2 separate regions of the Homo sapiens genome follow, and region 2 is linked to region 1. The links come from fine-mapping of genetic effects on gene expression. A gene starts in region 1. The other region holds a variant in brackets. All regions are shown on one strand. Distances are between the middles of the regions.

The links. PIP is the estimated chance that this variant, and not a neighbour inherited with it, causes the effect.
Region 2: its variant is the best candidate, but not a certain one, in a credible set for the expression of BRSK2 in sun-exposed skin (GTEx, PIP 0.86).

Annotation. Positions count from the first base shown.
Region 1 is chr11:1,385,211-1,393,525 of GRCh38, forward strand. It overlaps BRSK2 (BR serine/threonine kinase 2), which reads left to right and starts at 4,724. Exons shown (of 20, transcript NM_001256627.2): 1 at 4,724-5,165. The coding sequence starts at 5,075. RefSeq lists a silencer at 4,121-4,490.
Region 2 is chr11:1,460,130-1,468,444 of GRCh38, forward strand. It overlaps BRSK2 (BR serine/threonine kinase 2), which reads left to right. Exons shown (of 20, transcript NM_001256627.2): 20 at 371-2,560. The coding sequence ends at 594. Among named protein-coding and RNA genes, the nearest start is that of MOB2, 22 kb to the right of the region's middle. The variant C/T (reference allele first, on the strand shown) is at 4,133.

The DNA.
Region 1 (8,315 bases):
GTGTGGAGTCCTGGTGTGTAGCCATGCCTGGCTATTTTATTTTTATTTTTCATAGAGATAATGTGTTAGGCTGTTCTTGTGTTGCTATAAATACCTGAGACTGGTAGTTTATTTTAAAAAGAGGTTTAATTGGCTTATGGTTCTGCAGGCTGTAAAGGAAGCATGGCATCCGGAAGCTTCCAATAACGGTGGAAGGCAAAGGGGGAGCAGGGGTCTCACACGGCAGAAGTGGGAGCAAGAGAGAGTGGGAGGGGAGGCTCCCACTTAACCAGATCTCACGAATACTCACCATTGCAAGGACAGCACCAAGCCCCGAGGAATCCACCCCATGACCAAAACATCTCCCAGCAGGCCCCATCTCCAACACTGAAGATTCCATTTCAACATATGTCTGGGCGGGGACAAATACCCAAACTATATCAGATGGAGTCTTGCTATGCTGCCCAGGCTGGTCTCAAATTCCTGGGCTCAAGCTATCCTCCCACCTTGGCCTTCCAAAGTGCTGGCAGTACAAGCATGAGCCACTGCACCTGGCAGCTTGTCAATTTCTAAAAAAAAAAAAAAAAAAAAAGAGAAAATTTAAAAAATCAAATTAAAATTAAATCGATTACTTGGGCCTTGTTAAGTCTCACTTAATATACTGAGAGATGTATAATCGTTTTTTGTGTACAGATCTCATGCAAATTCTGATAAATTTACCCCTAGTATTTCGTGGTTTTTAAATTCTCTTTGTAAGTGGTACTGTTTTCATAATTTCAACTTCTAATTGATGGTTAGCACACAAATAGAATTGACCTTTTTTTGGCTTTGTACCCTGTGGCTTTGGTAAACTTACTTATTCGTTTTAGTACCAGTTTGTAGCTTAGAATTTTCTGCAGACAATAATGTTATCTTCTTGTTTTACTTTCTGACATGGAGTTTTGCTCTTGTTGCCCAGGCTGGAGTGCAATGGCATGATCTCGGCTCACTGCAAACTCTGCCTCGTGGGTTCAAGCGATTCTCCTGCCTGAGCCTCCTGAGTAGCTGGGATTACAGGTGCCCATCACCAAACCCAGCTAATTTTTGTATTTTTAGTAGAGACAGGGTTTCACCAGGTTGGCCAGGCTGGTCTCGAACTCCTGACCTCAGGTGATCTGCCCGCCTCAGCCTCCCAAAGTGCTGGGATTACAGACGTGAGCCACCGTGCCCGGCCATTAATGTTATCTTCTAATAAAGATCACCTAAAATTTCCTTTTTGGCTGGGCACGGTGGCTCACGCCTGTAATCCCAGCACTTTGGGAGGCCGAGGCGGGTGGATCATGAGGTCAGGAGATCGAGACCATCCTGGCTAACACGGTGAAACCCCGCCTCTACTAAAAATAAAAAAAAATTAGCCGGGCGTGGTGGCGGGCACCTGTAGTCCCAGCTACTTGGGAGGCTGAGGCAGGAGAATGACGTGAACCCGGGAGGCGGAGCTTGCAGTCAGCCGAGATCGGGCCATTGCACTCCAGCCTGGGCGACAGAGCAAGACTCCATCTCAAAAAAAAAAAAAAAATAATAATAATAATAAAAAATTTCCTTTTCAACTGGTACAAATTTTGTCTTCCTTGCCTCATTACTTCGGCATGTACTCTGGCACGACACTGAAATAAATGATGATGATGGACAACCTTGCCCCATCCCTGACCCAAGGAAAAGCTTTCAGTTTCTCACCACTAAGCCTGACATTAGCTGTGGGTTTTTGTAGTTTCCCTTTGTTGGGTTGGGAGTGCAGGAGCAGAATAGATTCGAATCTTCTCCTCCTGGTTTACTGAGAGCCTTTGTCGTGAATGAGTGCTGAATTTTGTTGAATGCTTTCCTTGCATCTGTGGAAATGACCGTGTGGTTTTTCTGTGTTGGTCTGCTAATAGTGAATGACAATTGATTTTGAAATGTTAAACTAACTTTGCATTCCCGGGTACGCTCCACAAGGTCATATGTGTTCTCTTTATATATTGCTGGAATTGATTTGATGTTTTGTTAAGGGATTTTTGTGTCTAGGCTCCTGAGTGGACTTTAATTTTCTTGTCATGTCCTTGCATGGTTTTGGCACCAGGGTGATGACAGTTTCACAGAGGAGCTGGGACATGGCCCGTCTTCCTCTGTGTCCTGGAAGTGTCTGTGTAGCGGGGTGCTTTTCCTCCATTAGTGTTTGGTGGGCTCCACTGGTGAGTCTTGGCCTGGACGTCTTTGTGAGACTGGGCCCTTTCCTAACTCCGGCAACAGACCTTCGTGCTCGAGAGCCCTGGCTCCTTTGGGGCTCCTGCTCCCACCTTACACGCGACAGAGGGGGACCGAGGGCTGTGGCATCACAGTCGTGGGCATCTACTGGCTGGCCACACCCTGGTACACCCTCTCCTGGGGCACCCCAGTACCAGGCCCGCTGGAAGGAAGGGCAGTCATCCTGTTGATCCCCACAAAGATGGCAGCAGGGAGGGCGCGGCGTGCTATGGAGAAGGCGTTGAGTCTGGGGTTTTGTGCAGCACCTTCAAGAGGGGACAGCAGGGCCAAGGGAGGCTGGGAGGGCGATTTGAGGATAGGCACTCAAGAGGCTGAAGGCTGACTAGCCTCTTGCGCCCGGAGGACAGGCAGGGAGCCAGAAGAGAGGCCCCAGACTGAGCCCCAGAGGCCACCAATGGCATAGGCTGCTCAGACACAGACAGGGAAGAAAAGGCCTCAGGGCTGCAGTGAGGGTTGGGAGAGGGATGCAGGCTGGCAAGGAGGTGGGAAGGAAGAAAGCAAGAATTTTGGCCACTGGAGTAGCCGGATGCAAACGGTCAATAGGGCAAAATGCTGCTGAGGATGTCACAAAGGTGCGTCTGACTCTGCTGCAGCCTGGGAGGCCAGGTGACCATGGCAGCAGAGAGAGGGCATCTCAGGTCAAGTGCCCCTGCCCTCTGGCTGTGGCCTGACGCCCTCTCCTGGTCTCCTGCACACCCTCGGCCTCTGTTGGCACCTGGACCAGACCACTCCCAGTCAGCCTCCAGCCAGACCTCACTGCTTGACAGTTTCTCCAGCTGGAGGTCCCAGTCTACATTCAGCTAAAAATGTCTGCTGTCCCCACTCACAGCAGCAGCAGCGGGGGAAAGGGGAGTGCCCTCTGCCTCTGTCCCATGCTCTCAGCCCCCCTCCCCTGCCCCCACTGGTGGGGCCCTGATTGCTCATGCTCAGAGGCCCCAGAATTGGGTAGGGAGGACCCTTAGTCCACAGCATTTGAAGGGAAGCAGGGCGGGCGGGTGCAGGCCGAGAGTGGACAGGTGCTTTGGGGCCCACTCCCCTCCCCAGCTGGAAATACAGACAGCCCAAAGAGCAGGAGGGCGCACTGGGAAGACCCCGCAGTTTCCTGAGCTCATACGGGCTTACCAGCGTGGGGAGCGGACCACGGTCAGCAGCAGTGTGTGGCAGAGCCCGCAGGGGAAACGTTGCCCGCAGACCATACACGGGCAAGATCTGGGACCCCCACTTCTGCAGCGTTCCGGGTCTCCCTCACCTCTCCCCTCCCACCACCTTCTGCAGCACGGGCTTAAGGAAATACCAGTGTTTTTCTGCAAAGAAACAGAGGGTCCGTCCAGGTCTGGCTGCCTCTTCGGCTGCCTGTGTTTAGACCTCCAAAGGCTGCTCCCGGCAACCCCTGCCCAGCTGCTCAACCTGAAAGAGGGGTCGGTAGCAAGGGCCGGGAGGCGCCAGGGCGCTGCGGCCGGATCCCAGGTGAGTTCCTTGACTCCGCGCCGCGCAGGTCACTGTGGCATAACTGGGAAAACCGCCGCTTCTCCCTCGGGAGCGGAGGCGGAGGGCCACGTCCTCCCTGGGGGTGCACAATCTCTGCTTGGACAACGCCCGCGTGCAGTAGCCCCACAGACTCCCATGCAGCCCCCCCGCCACGTGTGCCGCATCCGCGCCCTGCATGCAACACCCGCCCCCTCCAGCGCAGCATGCCCCTCGCTGGCGTGCAGCACCCCCCATGTGTGCAGCACCCCTGCCCCGAATACAGCACCTCTCCCCAGTACAGCACTCCCGCCCCGCATGCAACACTCGCCCCCCTCCAGGGCAGCATCCCCATCCCCCGCGCGTGCAGCACCCCCTCGAGGGGCGGGAAACTCTTTGGGACACCCGGGGTCACGCCCTGCAGGGTAAAACCCCCGTCCAGGGCAGCCATCTGCACCCCCTCGCCATGGGCCCACTGCCTGCTCCGTCCCGGGATGCGCCTTAATGGCGGGTCGGGCGGCAGCGGGAGCTCTGCTGCCTGGTGGGACCGGACGTGGCAGCCGGCGGGCTGGAGGCTCCCAGGTCCCGGCCTCGCCCTGGCCTCGCCTCGCCCCCTAGAGTCTCCCCGAGCGCTCGTAGCGGCGGGGCGGGGTGGGGAGGCGCTGATTGGCCGGCGCGGGCACCGCTTGCCGCCGCCACGGCATCCCGCTGCGTTCGTACAGGCTCGTGTCGACTCGGCTCCGTTGCGCGGCCCGGCTCGGCTCCCCTCAGCTGCGCTCGACTCCGCTGTTCGGCTCGGCTGTTCGGCTTGGCTACAGGGCTCGGCTGTTCGGCTTGGCTACATGGCTCGGCTGCGCGGCTCGGCTCTGTTCGGCTCGGCTCGGCTGCTGGGCTCGGCTGTTCGGCTCAGCTGCGCGGCTCGGCTCGTCTCGGCTCTGTTCGGCTCGGCTCGGCTGCTGGGCTCGGCTGTTCGGCTCAGCTGCACGGCTCGGCTCGGCTCGGCTCGGCTCGGCTGCGCGGCCGCTGACGGGCGTGCGCTGGGGGCGCGGGGCGCGGGGCGCGGGCCTCGGCGGCGGCGGCGGCGGCGGCGGCGGAAGCCAGGTGCCCCCGCCCGCCCTGTCCTCTCGACGAGGCGGAGGCGTCGCCGCGGGCCAGGCCTCGGACTGCCGCGTCGGAGTGGACGCGGGGGGCGGCGGCGCGGGCGGACGCGGGCGGCGCGAAGCAGCGGGGCCCGCGGGGGCGCCCCGGCCGGGTCGGCGCGGACGGCACTCGGCGGACGCGGGCGGACGCTGGGCGGCCCCTCCCTGCCCGCGCGCCCGGGCGCCCCTGGCCGGCGCCGGGCCCCAGAGCGATGACATCGACGGGGAAGGACGGCGGCGCGCAGCACGCGCAGTATGTTGGGCCCTACCGGCTGGAGAAGACGCTGGGCAAGGGGCAGACAGGTGCGTGCGGCCGGGGCGGGGACCGGGGCCGGGGAGGCCGCGCTGGCAGCGCGCTGGGTGGGGGGCGCCCGAGGGAGGCCCCGGCCGCGAAGCCGCAGGCCCGGCCCGGGCCCCGGCCGCGAACAATGGGCGGCCCGTGCGCCCCCGTCCGCTCGTGCGCCCCGGTTCCGCCGCGGATCCCGCAGGCCGCTTGGCTGCGGTCGGCCGGGCGCGGCCCAAGGACACGCGGCGCGGCGCGGGGCGCGCAGGCGGACAGGGGCGCACGGGACGGCGCCCCTCGGGCCCCGCTGCAGGTGCGCGGCCCGGGCCGCATTGTGCGCCCCAGCGACCGGGCCCATTGTGCCGCGGGAGGAGGGGGCCGCGCGGGCGCCCATCTGCCGTCTGCCGCGGCCGCGCTAATAGGCGTGCTGCCCGAGCAGCTGCGCCCCCGGCGGGACTCCCACCTCCGCGCGCCGGCCACCGGGGCCTCCGGGCAGGCCCGATCTCCCTCCGCGGTGGGGGCGGGAGAGTGCGGGGACCTGCAGAGGGCTGGACAGCGCCTTGCGCTGCTCCGGCTCGGGCTCGGGCGGGCGGAGCGTCTGTGACCTGCATTCCCACGGGGCAGGGAGAGGCCATTGGTGCTGGGACCAGAAGTGCGTGGGACCTGACCCGTGGAGCAGCCCCGCGGCCTGCCGGTGGAGGGGGCTTCCCGGTGGGGCCTGGCTGTCATTCTAGGGAACAGGCCGGGTCCCTGCGGGGCCGAACCCAGGCCAGAGGCAACCCAGCTACCCTCGCATGTGGCCAACTCTCCCCGGCCCGCTGGGTTTGGCTAGCCCTTCATCTGGTCAGGCACATTCACAGAGTCGCCTTTGTGGAGGCTGGGGCTCAGCCATTTTCTTTCTTCTCTCAGGACCGGCCTGTCTCTTGGTGTCCCCGAGGTCCCACGGCACTGCCTCTCCCTTCCAATCCGAGAAGTTCCTTAGACCCGGGCGGGCAGGGGTGGAGGGAAGGAGGAGGAGAGCGCTGGTGCAGGGTGGAGGCTCAGCCCCTCACGGCTGCACAGAGGAGGAGCTGGGAGGTGGCGTTGGGGAAAGAAAGTGGGCCAGGCCCAGGCTCTTGGGGGAGGGCCGTGGCTGTGATGTAACTACGGCAGAGCTGCAGGAAGGGGTTTAGACTGAGGGGTTCAGGGGAGCTGCCTCACCTTGGGTGCACAGCCTTCCGCCACCCGCCACGGCACGGAAGGGCCCCTGGCCACAGGGCAGGACCTGGGCAGGTGGGGTGGTGCAGCCTGGGTTGGAGAAGGAGGTGGCATTCAGCCCATGTCACCTGAGTTCAAAATTCTCGTCTTTCCCGGAAAGAAAAACTAGTGTGTGAAATCCGTGGTGAAGGAGGGGCCCAGGGCAGCAGGATGCAGGAGTCAGTGAGATAATCCAATTACGGTCCCAATAAAATGTTATTATAAGGAAACATCTGCGTGTAAATGAAGACACGATGAGTTATGTGCTGTGCGCGGCCTCGGTGGGTAGGGGCTGGTCTCCACTCTTCATGGCATTCTGCTGGCGGCAGTTAATTACGGGAGGTTTCCACTGTAATTAACAGTAATGAATACAAAAGGATGGGCTGTGTGTGTCTACAACGTGCTGAGAGAGATATTTAGAAAACAGCTCGAGGGGGGGCACAAAGCGGCCCCTCTCTCCCGAGTTATGACGGGCAGAGCGCAAGCGTGTCACCGGGAGGGCCCTGGAGAAGGCCACCATTTCTGTGCGTCTTCTGTTGCTGCTGCTGAAGGGTCACCAGGAGTTGGGTGGACATGGGGCCTGGAGTGTGTGTGCTGGGCCACTTGGCACCAGATGCCAGGAGAGCTGCCAGGTCCCAAGCTCAAGAGGGAGATAGGCTTCCTGCCAGGAGACCTCCGTGGGAGAACGGGAGGCTGGGCTTCTGGCCGCCACCACCCGAGGACGATCTGATCCTGCCGTTGAGAACGCTTCTCCTTCCAGGGACCTGGCCACAGGGGAGCTGTGGAGGCCTTGCTTGGGGGGCCATTGGTGTGGACGCGACTCCAGCCCCTTCCCCGTGTCTGTGGCTGGCAGCTTTGTTTGGCCCTCTCTGTTCATCTCTCTCAGCCTGAGACCTTGGAAGGAGGAGCTGCTCGACTTGAGGTGGCCACTGAGAGGGAGGTGGTCAGTGGCAGTGGCAGTGAGCCTTGTGGTGCCACGAGAGCCCTTCCACCCGGCTGACCCAAGCTGGGGCCTGCTGGACGGTGGGCCAAAGATGTGGTCCGAAACCTGCCCTTGGGGAGTCTGGCCGTGTGGGGAGGGGAGACCACGCAGCACCCCCACCGGGGCCTGGAGGACGCCCTTCTAGACGCCGCAGGGTCCGGTCGGCTGTCTTCTTCTGCCTTTCAGCGTGAGCGCTGCATGGTCTCACCTGTACGGCACCTCCCTGTCTTGTTGGGTCTGTGCGTCCTGCAGGGCCAGTGTGGCTGTAGGGTCGTCCTTCTGCATGGGGCGTCCTCTGCACAGCTCCCCTCGGTGGCTGTGGGGGTTGCCTTCAGTGGTCTCACTGCCGGTGCCAGGCACCAGGTGAAGCCGTCAGAGCACTGAGCATCTGTGGAAGCCTCCTCGCCGGCTGCTTGGTGGTTTCTGGCCAAGACTTAGGGGGATGTAGGCTGGGGTTGGGGTGGGAACCCACCTGCAAAGGTGCTGCCTTAGCTTTTCTTGGGGCTGAGAAAGGCTTGTGTAGCCTCATCTGAGCTTGACCCCTGCAGAGATGCCGAGACACAGTCCCTGCCAGCAAGGGCAACCATGGAGGTTGGAGGGCGCAGACACTCCGAGTTGGAGCATGCAGGTCCAGGAGGGTGTGTGGCACGGGCTGGGTGGCTTTTGTCCCTGCGCGCCTTTGTCCCTGTGCCCCATCAGTACGTGGAGCAGGGCACCTTCTTGCCCAAACCTCGGCTTAGCTCCTGAAATCTGGGAGGCCTGGGAGGGCCCTGTGGGAGGAGCTGGAGAACCTCGGGCCCTTGGAGCTGTTCTTGGGGGCAGGCGGGTGGGCTGCATGGGACGATGAGGGGCCTGCCTTCGGGAATCCTCTGTCTGGGGGGCGGGAGAAAGGAATAATGGCCGCGATAGGGCTCCCTGCGAGGGAACGAAGGAGCTAGGATGAGGGGCTGCC
Region 2 (8,315 bases), 75 kb after region 1:
GGTGGGGAGGGAGGGGTCTCACCACCTGCCCCGAGCCTCGCTTCGCCAAAGGAGCACTGGGTCCTGCGCAACAGCTCGGAGGCGCTGGGGTCCTAAGTTCCTGGCCCCACGGCGCACAGCTTCCCCACCGCACAGCCCCCAGCGTACAGGGCCCCTGCCGGCCGCCGCCTGCCCACCCTGCTTGCCGCCCACCGGTCCCCGCTCGGCCCCATCTCAGCCTCATCTCTGGGTTCTTTCCCTCGTCGAGGCCTCTTCGTTCATTTGTTTGTTTGTTCTCTTTCTCTCTCCTTCCCTCCCCTCCTCTTTCTCTCCCCCTTTTTTTTCTTTTTTCCTTTTTTTTTTTTTTTTTGTCTCTGTTCTGTGTACCCAGGCAGCCCATTGAGTAACTTCTTTGACGTAATTAAACAACTTTTTTCAGACGAGAAGAACGGGCAGGCGGCCCAGGCCCCCAGCACGCCCGCCAAGCGGAGTGCCCACGGCCCACTCGGTGACTCCGCGGCCGCTGGCCCTGGCCCCGGAGGGGACGCCGAGTACCCAACGGGCAAGGACACGGCCAAGATGGGCCCGCCCACCGCCCGCCGCGAGCAGCCTTAGACACACTAGCCCCCCCCCCCAGCACAGCACTGACAGCGGCTGCCTCGCCGCCCGCCGCCCGCCCTGCCCCGAGTGGACCCGCGGCCGCGCCGCCCGTCCGTCCAGACTGTTCTCAGAGCCTGGGAGGAAAGGAAAGGGGCGTTGGGGCCGGCCTGTGGGCTGCGCCACCCGCGCCCGCTCTCTTTTCTCTCTGTCTCTGCCTCTGCCTGTCTCTGACAGCATCGCTTGTTTCCACTCTGATACCAGGAATTATCCCGAAAAGTTAACATGTCACCTCCACGAGGCCATCCTCTGTGACCGAAGGCAGCTGCTGCGGACCCGCCCTCCCTCCGCTCCTGCTGTTGCTGCCGGGCAGTGAGGCCCAGCCCAGCGCCCCGTCCACCCCGCGGCAGCTCCTCGCCTCAGCTCCGCACGGCCCGTGGGAGGAAGGCCAGGCTCGGGGGAGCCTCCTCCAGCCCGGCCGACCCGGACTCCCGGTCACCTGACCCCTCAGCAAGAACAGCCTGCCTGGTGGCCTTCTGGGGCCAGGACCCCTGGTGGGCAACGTAGCCACAGGAACAGGCCCCGTCCACCGCCTCCACGCCGCACCTGGAGGCCTCCTCGCAGGCCCGTGCCCCGCCTCCCTGGCTGCGCCGCCTCCGTGTAGTCTTGGCCTCCTCAGGCTGCCTCCCGTCCTCTCGTCTCACCCGCGCCTCCCTTGCCTCATCTGGGGCGGCTGTGGGCTCTGGCGCTCCTCTCTGGCTGAGGTGGAAACAGAGACACCCTGCGGCACCAGAGCCTTCCCAGCAGGCCAGGCCGCTGGGCTGGGATCAGTGTTATTTATTTGCCGTTTTAATTTATGGATTCTCCGCACCTCTGTTCAGGGAAGGGCGGCGGCCACATCCCCTGCCGTCTGCGTGTCTCAGGCAGTGGGGGGGCTGGGGCCAGGGCGCCCTCTGAGGACAGAGCTGGTGGGGCGCGGGGGGGCTGGCGAGCTACTGTAAACTTTAAAGAATTCCTGCAAGATATTTTTATAAACTTTTTTTTCTTGGTGGTTTTTGGAAAAGGGTGTGGGGGTGGGGGCGCCGCTGGGGCAGGGCCAGGTTTTGTGTTTTAGTCCCTTGCTCCTGCTTCTTTCTACACACACATCTAAAGACGGTGCGGCTCGCTCTGTCATGGGTTCCGTCTCTCTGTGGAGAAGCAGCTCCACCTCTGGGGGGGCTCGGGGCAGAGGGGCGGTGTCTTGTAGCGGGCGGCAGCGCCAGCGCCCCTCTGTCAGGCTGGGGCAATCTTGGTTTTGTGTCCAAAGGTGAAGGGGTAGGAGGAGGGCCCTCAGCTGGCCCTCCCCACACACAGGACGGCAGGGGCACTGTGAGGCTTTTCTTATTAAAATGAAAAAATTGAAAAAAAAGGACAAAGAGTCGGTGGCGCTCCTCTGCAGGGCGTTCTGTGCAGAGCGAGGCCCAGGGCGCAGCCCTCAGAGGGCTGCAGGCCCACCCTGCCCAGTGCCCGCCGCCGTGCTTCACCCCAGCTCCAGCTTCTGTGTTCCCTTCCGCCCATGTGCCCAGCCCTCCCAGGCGGGCACAGCCCGGGTGCGGCGGCCGTGGGGGACGGCGGGTCTGATGCATGCCTCTGCCATGGAGTCGTCTGTCTGCTTCGGTGCCTGCCCCTGCCTCCCACCCACCTCGTGTATAGATTTTAACGCTTCTGTTAACATTAGACCTCTGCCACAGGCTGGGATTTCTATACATAAGAACAAAAGCAAACACCTAGGACAGCAAACGCCAGGCGGTACAGGCGGGAAGGGGCTCTCCACGGAGATCGAGGACACGAAGCAAACTGCCTCTTGCTTGCCTTCCCCTTTTGTGCTTCGGACACACGCGGACTCCAGCAGGCGCCACGGAAATGGGCAAGCCCCTGCAGTGTACCCCTGTCATAACTGTGAGCAGCTGCAGCTCCGGAACAATAAATCCCTTCCGCAAAGACAGCGACGCAGGTCTTCATCTGGGCAGGGCGGGCGCGCAGGGCTCTGTGACAGCCCGGGACAGCTTCTTGTTCCCCACTTGCAGCCCCTGGGCTGCGCCAGTGTGAATGCAGCTACCCTCTGCCCAGCTGAAGAGGGTGAGATTCCGGGCGGCCAAGGTCAGAGGTCACTTCCGATGTGTGGGGCCATCCCCCGAGGCTGCCCCAGCCTGAGGCGGGCTCCCGTTGAGGGCCAGGGCCTGGGCGGAGCTCTCTTTGCACGGCACCTCTGCCACCCCACAAGGCCTGCACGGCCACCCAGGGCCTGGGCCTTTTCCTGGAGAATGAGCCTTCTTCCCACTCCTTACTTGGGAAGGGTCCGGATAGGGTGCCATGACCCAGCCTTGGGAGTGAGGGGCCCAGGCTGAGCACAGCCCCTGGAGCTAGAGCGGGGATGGTCCCAGCCATACCTGCCACAGAGGGCAGCCAGGGCCGTGGGCTCCACTGGCACGACGCCCTGGCCCAGCTGCCCCTCTGCCGCCGCAGCAGAAGGGCAAGTCCAGGCCCATGCTGTGTGAGGCCAGTGGCCGGGAGTCCACCGCGGCCTGGAGGAGGCCAGCAGCAGGCCTCAGCAGGGTCCACGCAGAGACTGCGGCGTCCACAGAGCTGCCCTGGGAGGCCCACGCACACTTCCCTCCCACGTGAAGGACTCAGATGCGCCGGACTGCACCCAGCTGTCTATCATTGGAGCAGGTGCTAAGCACATGGCTGAGGGGGGAGATGATGATGGGGTGGGGGCCACATCCCTGGTCTCAGCCCAACAGAAGCTAGTAGCTGTCCCACCTCCATTGTGACAAAACGTCCCCAGACATTGCCATGAGTCTCCTGGTAGGGGACAGAATCACCCCCAGGTGAGAGCCACTGCCCTGAACTTCAAGCTGTGCCTGTACCCATCTCTCTGGAGGGAGCCAGGGGGTCACCATGTTAGTCAGGCTTAGTTAGCTCAGGGCTCCGCTCAGAGCCCAGGACACAGAGGGAAGCTGAGCCGTCCTCTGTTTGACCCTGGACTGCCAAGTGGCTGAGCTCACAGGAGGTTGGTACCCTGAAGAGAAGGCACTTGGGAGGGGCCCAGGGAATCAGGATCCATTCCAATCCCTGGATTACAGTTTCCCAGTTCATTTTACCTTAAGAAACAGGCTGAGGAAAGGAATTTGGCTGCTACGGTTCAGTGAGGCACAGGACAGTCTGTGGGGTCGCAGGCTACTGGCCCTGGACCGGAAGCCTTCCTGACCTGTGGTCCTGCACCTGCTTCTCTGAGAGCGGCTGACACACGCACTCCTGGCCCTCCTCTAAACATTCACGGTGAGAAGTCAGCCTTCTCAGGCCCATGACTGGAGGCCCAAAAGGAAACAGTGTGTCAAGAGTCCTGCCAGCTCCCCACTGCTCAGGAAGGGGCTGTGTCCTGCAGTCCCACTTCTGACACCAAGCTCTCTTGGTTGTAAGTAACAGAACCCAAAGCGAGCTAAGCCAGAATCTGCTGGTTTATATAAAAAATGAAAACAAATATGGCAGGACTTCTGATGTGGCAGACACTAGT[C/T]TCACTTTACACCAGTCGGTCCTCACATCATTTCTATGAAGAAATTAAAATGGAGATTGAAAAAGGATGTGGTGGCCGGTCTGCCCACCTAGAGGATGGCTTCACAGTCCTGGTCCTCAGTTCCCAGGTGGCTAATCCGACGGACACATCTGGGCTCAGAGCCTGCCACGGCCTGGCCTGAGAGCTAGGGCCCTGGTGAACGAGCCGACTGGTGAGCCCACCCATGGGATGGCAGGTGGGTGGCGGGGGACGACAGTCTGACCCACCTCCTGTACAGGATGCAGGTGGGAGGTGGGTGCTCCAGGGAGGGGCCCTGCACACAGCAGTCCAGGCCTAGGTCTGCTCCATGGGGAGCCTGCCCTGGGCTTTTCCGTCAGCTGAAGGCAGAGGCACAGAGCCCCAGCCTCCTAAGCTATAAGATGGAACAATTCCTGGTGTCACAAAGCCTCAGAGCTTGCAGGAGGCTGATGCCCGCATGCCAGCTTCAAGGTGGGGCGTTCCAGCTGCCCTGCTCCCATCCCGCCAGGGAGCTCACCACAGGTGGACTGGCCCTGCCTCCCCGTCCTGCCTGCCTCCTGCCCTCCAGTGGTGTGGTGCCCAGGCCCTCTGCCCTAAGTCCAGTGCCTCCCCACTCACTCCAGTGACTTCTCCCCATCCCACCCCAACTCCCTACCACCAACCCAAGTCTCTTGGTGTGATCTGGCAAGGGGTCGGGGTCAGCAGAGAGCCAGAGAGGAGGAGGCCAGCAACAGGAGGGAGAACCAGTGGCGACTTTCCAGGCAGCGGGGCCTGCTGGAGAGCGGGCAGGGCTGACAGACGTGCAGGGAACACTACCCGGGGAGCCACGTTCGTGCCAGCCAGACTGGCACAGTCTACACTGTGGGTCTCATGCCGGGGAGTTGGGCCCTCTTGTGCACCTGCCCCCAGGACCCTGTAAGAACGCCTTGGCCTGCTTGGTAGATGCATTGTCTCCTGTGGTTTCCTATCACCGCCATAGTTACCGCAAAGTAAGAAGCTTAAAACACCAATACCTCACAGTCCCAGAGTCAAGGACTGGGCAGGTCTCACTCAAGGGGTGCCCTGGTCTAGAATCAAGGTGTGCTCCTCCTGGAGGCTCCAGGGGAGGACCTGTGGCCGCCTGCATCCCGTGGCCTGGGGTCTCCACCTTCGCAGCCAGGAGCGTGGGTGGAGCCTCCTCACAGCTGTGTCCTGCGCATCCCAACCTGCGTCCAGCTTCCACGATGAAGGCCTCGTGCTCTCACTGGGCCCAGACCATCTCTGCCTCTCAAGGTCAGCTGATTGCCTTAATCCCATCGCTGCTTTCATTCCCCTTTGCTGCTGGGTGGCACGTTCACTTCCATGGGACTAGATGTGGACATCACCAGTGGTAAGGGATGTCTCAGGCCGAACGCAGTACCCTCCCACTCCCGCTGCTTCACACCCATCCCACGTGCAAATGCATCCCTCCCCTCACGGCCCCAACAGTCTCCACCAAACACAGCACCCAGTCCAGTCCCAAACCTCACGTACAGCTCATCAGCTCACAAGTCGCAAGTCGCACCCTCTAAGCTACCCCGATCAGGTATGGGTGACACTCTGGGCATTCCACCCTGGGGCAGTTTCCTCTCCATCTGTGGACCCCGAAAGCTAGAAAACCAGTTACCTGCTCCCAAAATACGACCAGAGAACAGACGCGGAATGCCAGTCACAGACACTCCTGTTTTCAAGGAAAGTTTGGCTGGGTGTGACGGTCCAGCACTTTGGGAGGCTGAGACAGAAAGGATCACCTGAGTCCAGGGGTTCAAGACCAGCCTGGGTAGTGAAACTTCAACTCTACAAAATATTTCAAAATCAGCCGGGCGTGGTGGCTCGCACCTGTGGTGCTGGCTACTCAGGAGTCTGAAGGGGGAGGACCCCTTGAGCCCGGAAGTCTGAGGCTGCAGTGAGCTAGGATTACCCAGCACTCCAGTTTGGGTGACGGTGAAACCCAGTCATTTATATGTGCATACACACACACACACACGTGACACACAGAGAAAGCTGCAAGGTGCTTGTGTCGCTGCTCCCAAGAAATCCAAAATCCAGCTGGGTACACTTCCTCCGTCCCAGCAAGGCCTGGGAACTCCTTCTGTGGGTCCCAACTCTGCCTCTGTGCTGACACCTCCACCCTCAGGGCCATGCTCTCTATTTATGAAACGTAGCAAGTGTTTGCAGCTGAACAGTTTAGTCTGCTTCCTGCCTGCTGATTTTTGGGGCTCAAGAGCCTTTCATCACATCCCCTCTGCCTCAGTCCAAGCCAGCTGAGTTTCTGATGGTTTAAGAGCCTCTCGTGGTTCCCACAGGGCTTCACCGGATCCGTAAGACCCAAGGCTCGTCCACAGACCCAAGGCTCGTCCACAGACCTCCCACAGCGGTCCCTGCTTTGAGCATCTGCTTGGGTGACCCGGGGCATCCACCAGCCACAGGCTCGCCCTCCTCCAGGAGCTCTTGGTGTGGCCGTTACTCTGAGCACACATTCCTGACAGTGAATCTCCTGACATCAGCATCTTCAGCTGAGAATTCCCGATGGCAGGGTGCTCACCCCTCTGCTAATGTCCTTCTCTCACTTAGTGGCCAACCTGAGCAGCGCAAGGGGCCCAGGCTGACCACCCTCGAGTGCTGCCCGCACGTGGCAACGGGACAGAGTGCAGCTGCACCTCTGCCCCCATGGACGGGGCTCTCCCTGGCTCCCGTTCTTTCCTTTCCCTCTGAGCTCCCACCTGCACCTTTAACCCCACATGTCCGAGGACGGGCGGGTCAGAGGGGCTCTGACTCTTCTCAGAGCCCAGGCTGGTTCCTCCGAGCCCCTCGAGCCCCGCTCGCCTCCATCCTTCTACCACCTGTTTAACAACATCACGGGCTTTTTCTATCACCCTCAAAATTCTTTCAGCCCAATTCCAAAGCCACTTCCACCTTTCTAGGTATTTGCTACAGCAGTGCCTCATGCCTAGAACCAAAATCTGCCTTCATCTCCTGTTGCTGCAGTTGCCATGAACTTCGTGGCTGGAGGCAAAATGAACTTACCTCAAACGGACCTCACCGGGCTAGTCTGCAGGGCCAGTTCTTTCTGGGTGCCTTCCTTTCCCAGCTTCTAGGAGCTGCCTGCACTGCTGACTCAGGCCCTTCCCACGCCGCGCTGTCTTCCTCCGCTGCCTCCCTGCTCAGTGCCCTTGGCTCTCCTGACAACACTGGGCCCATCCAGATAACCTCCCCTTCCTCAGGTCAGTGACCGGGAACCTGATTCCATCTGCAGCTTCCATCCTGCTGTGCTATCTAAGGAGACAGTCTCTTAGGATTAGGACACGGATCTCTTTTGGAGACCATCATTCTGCCTTTCAGAACACAGACCATAGATAGAGACTTAGTGAGCCATGGCTGCAGCTGGGGGCGAGGCTGAGCCCTCAACACTGAGACCCCCCTCAGTGTACAGGCCTCCTGTTCACGGAGGGAAACGGAGGCAGAGGCAGGAAGGCTTGACCAGGACTCCAGGTCTTACAGCAAGAACCCATCCCAGTGGAGGACAGCGCACAGCACAGTCCCCTCAGCCCAGGAGAGGGACAGGTCCACCAGACAATGGCCTAGCAGCAGGCGCCCCCAACGCCCAGCGCCAGCCCTCATCCCAGGCACCCTTCCCAAAGGAACTCATGCCCGCGACTCCCACGTGCCCTGGGGACCCTGCAGCTGCATCCTGAGTGTGAGACCGGCACGAATGCGCGCCCTGGACACCTCCTAAGGCCGTCCCACGGGCTCCACACACGCTCCATCTGAGGCTGCCTTGGAGGCTCTGGCTGGAATCCCGGTGTCCTCCTAGCCCCTTCAGCCCCAGTGGAGCTGGCCCCCAGCCCCCTGTGCCCTACAGCACTCTCAGTCCAATCTTCCACCCAGCCTCCGCTCGGCAGCCAGGCCCCAGGTTCGCCAGCACACAGCGACCCAGGCTGTGTGCCAGGCTGGCTCCCTGTGGCCTCAGCCAGGAGCTCCCTGCACACCCTAGACGGGGCCTCAGCCAGAGGGTGGCCCCACCAGGCCACCCGCCCCTGTTCTTGCCCTCCCTCGCCGGGGGACCTCCTTGCTACCTAGGCCAGCGCCGGTCCCTGCCTCAGGTTCCTACGCTCAGCCCCTTCAGTCAAGTTCTGTGGGTGTCCTG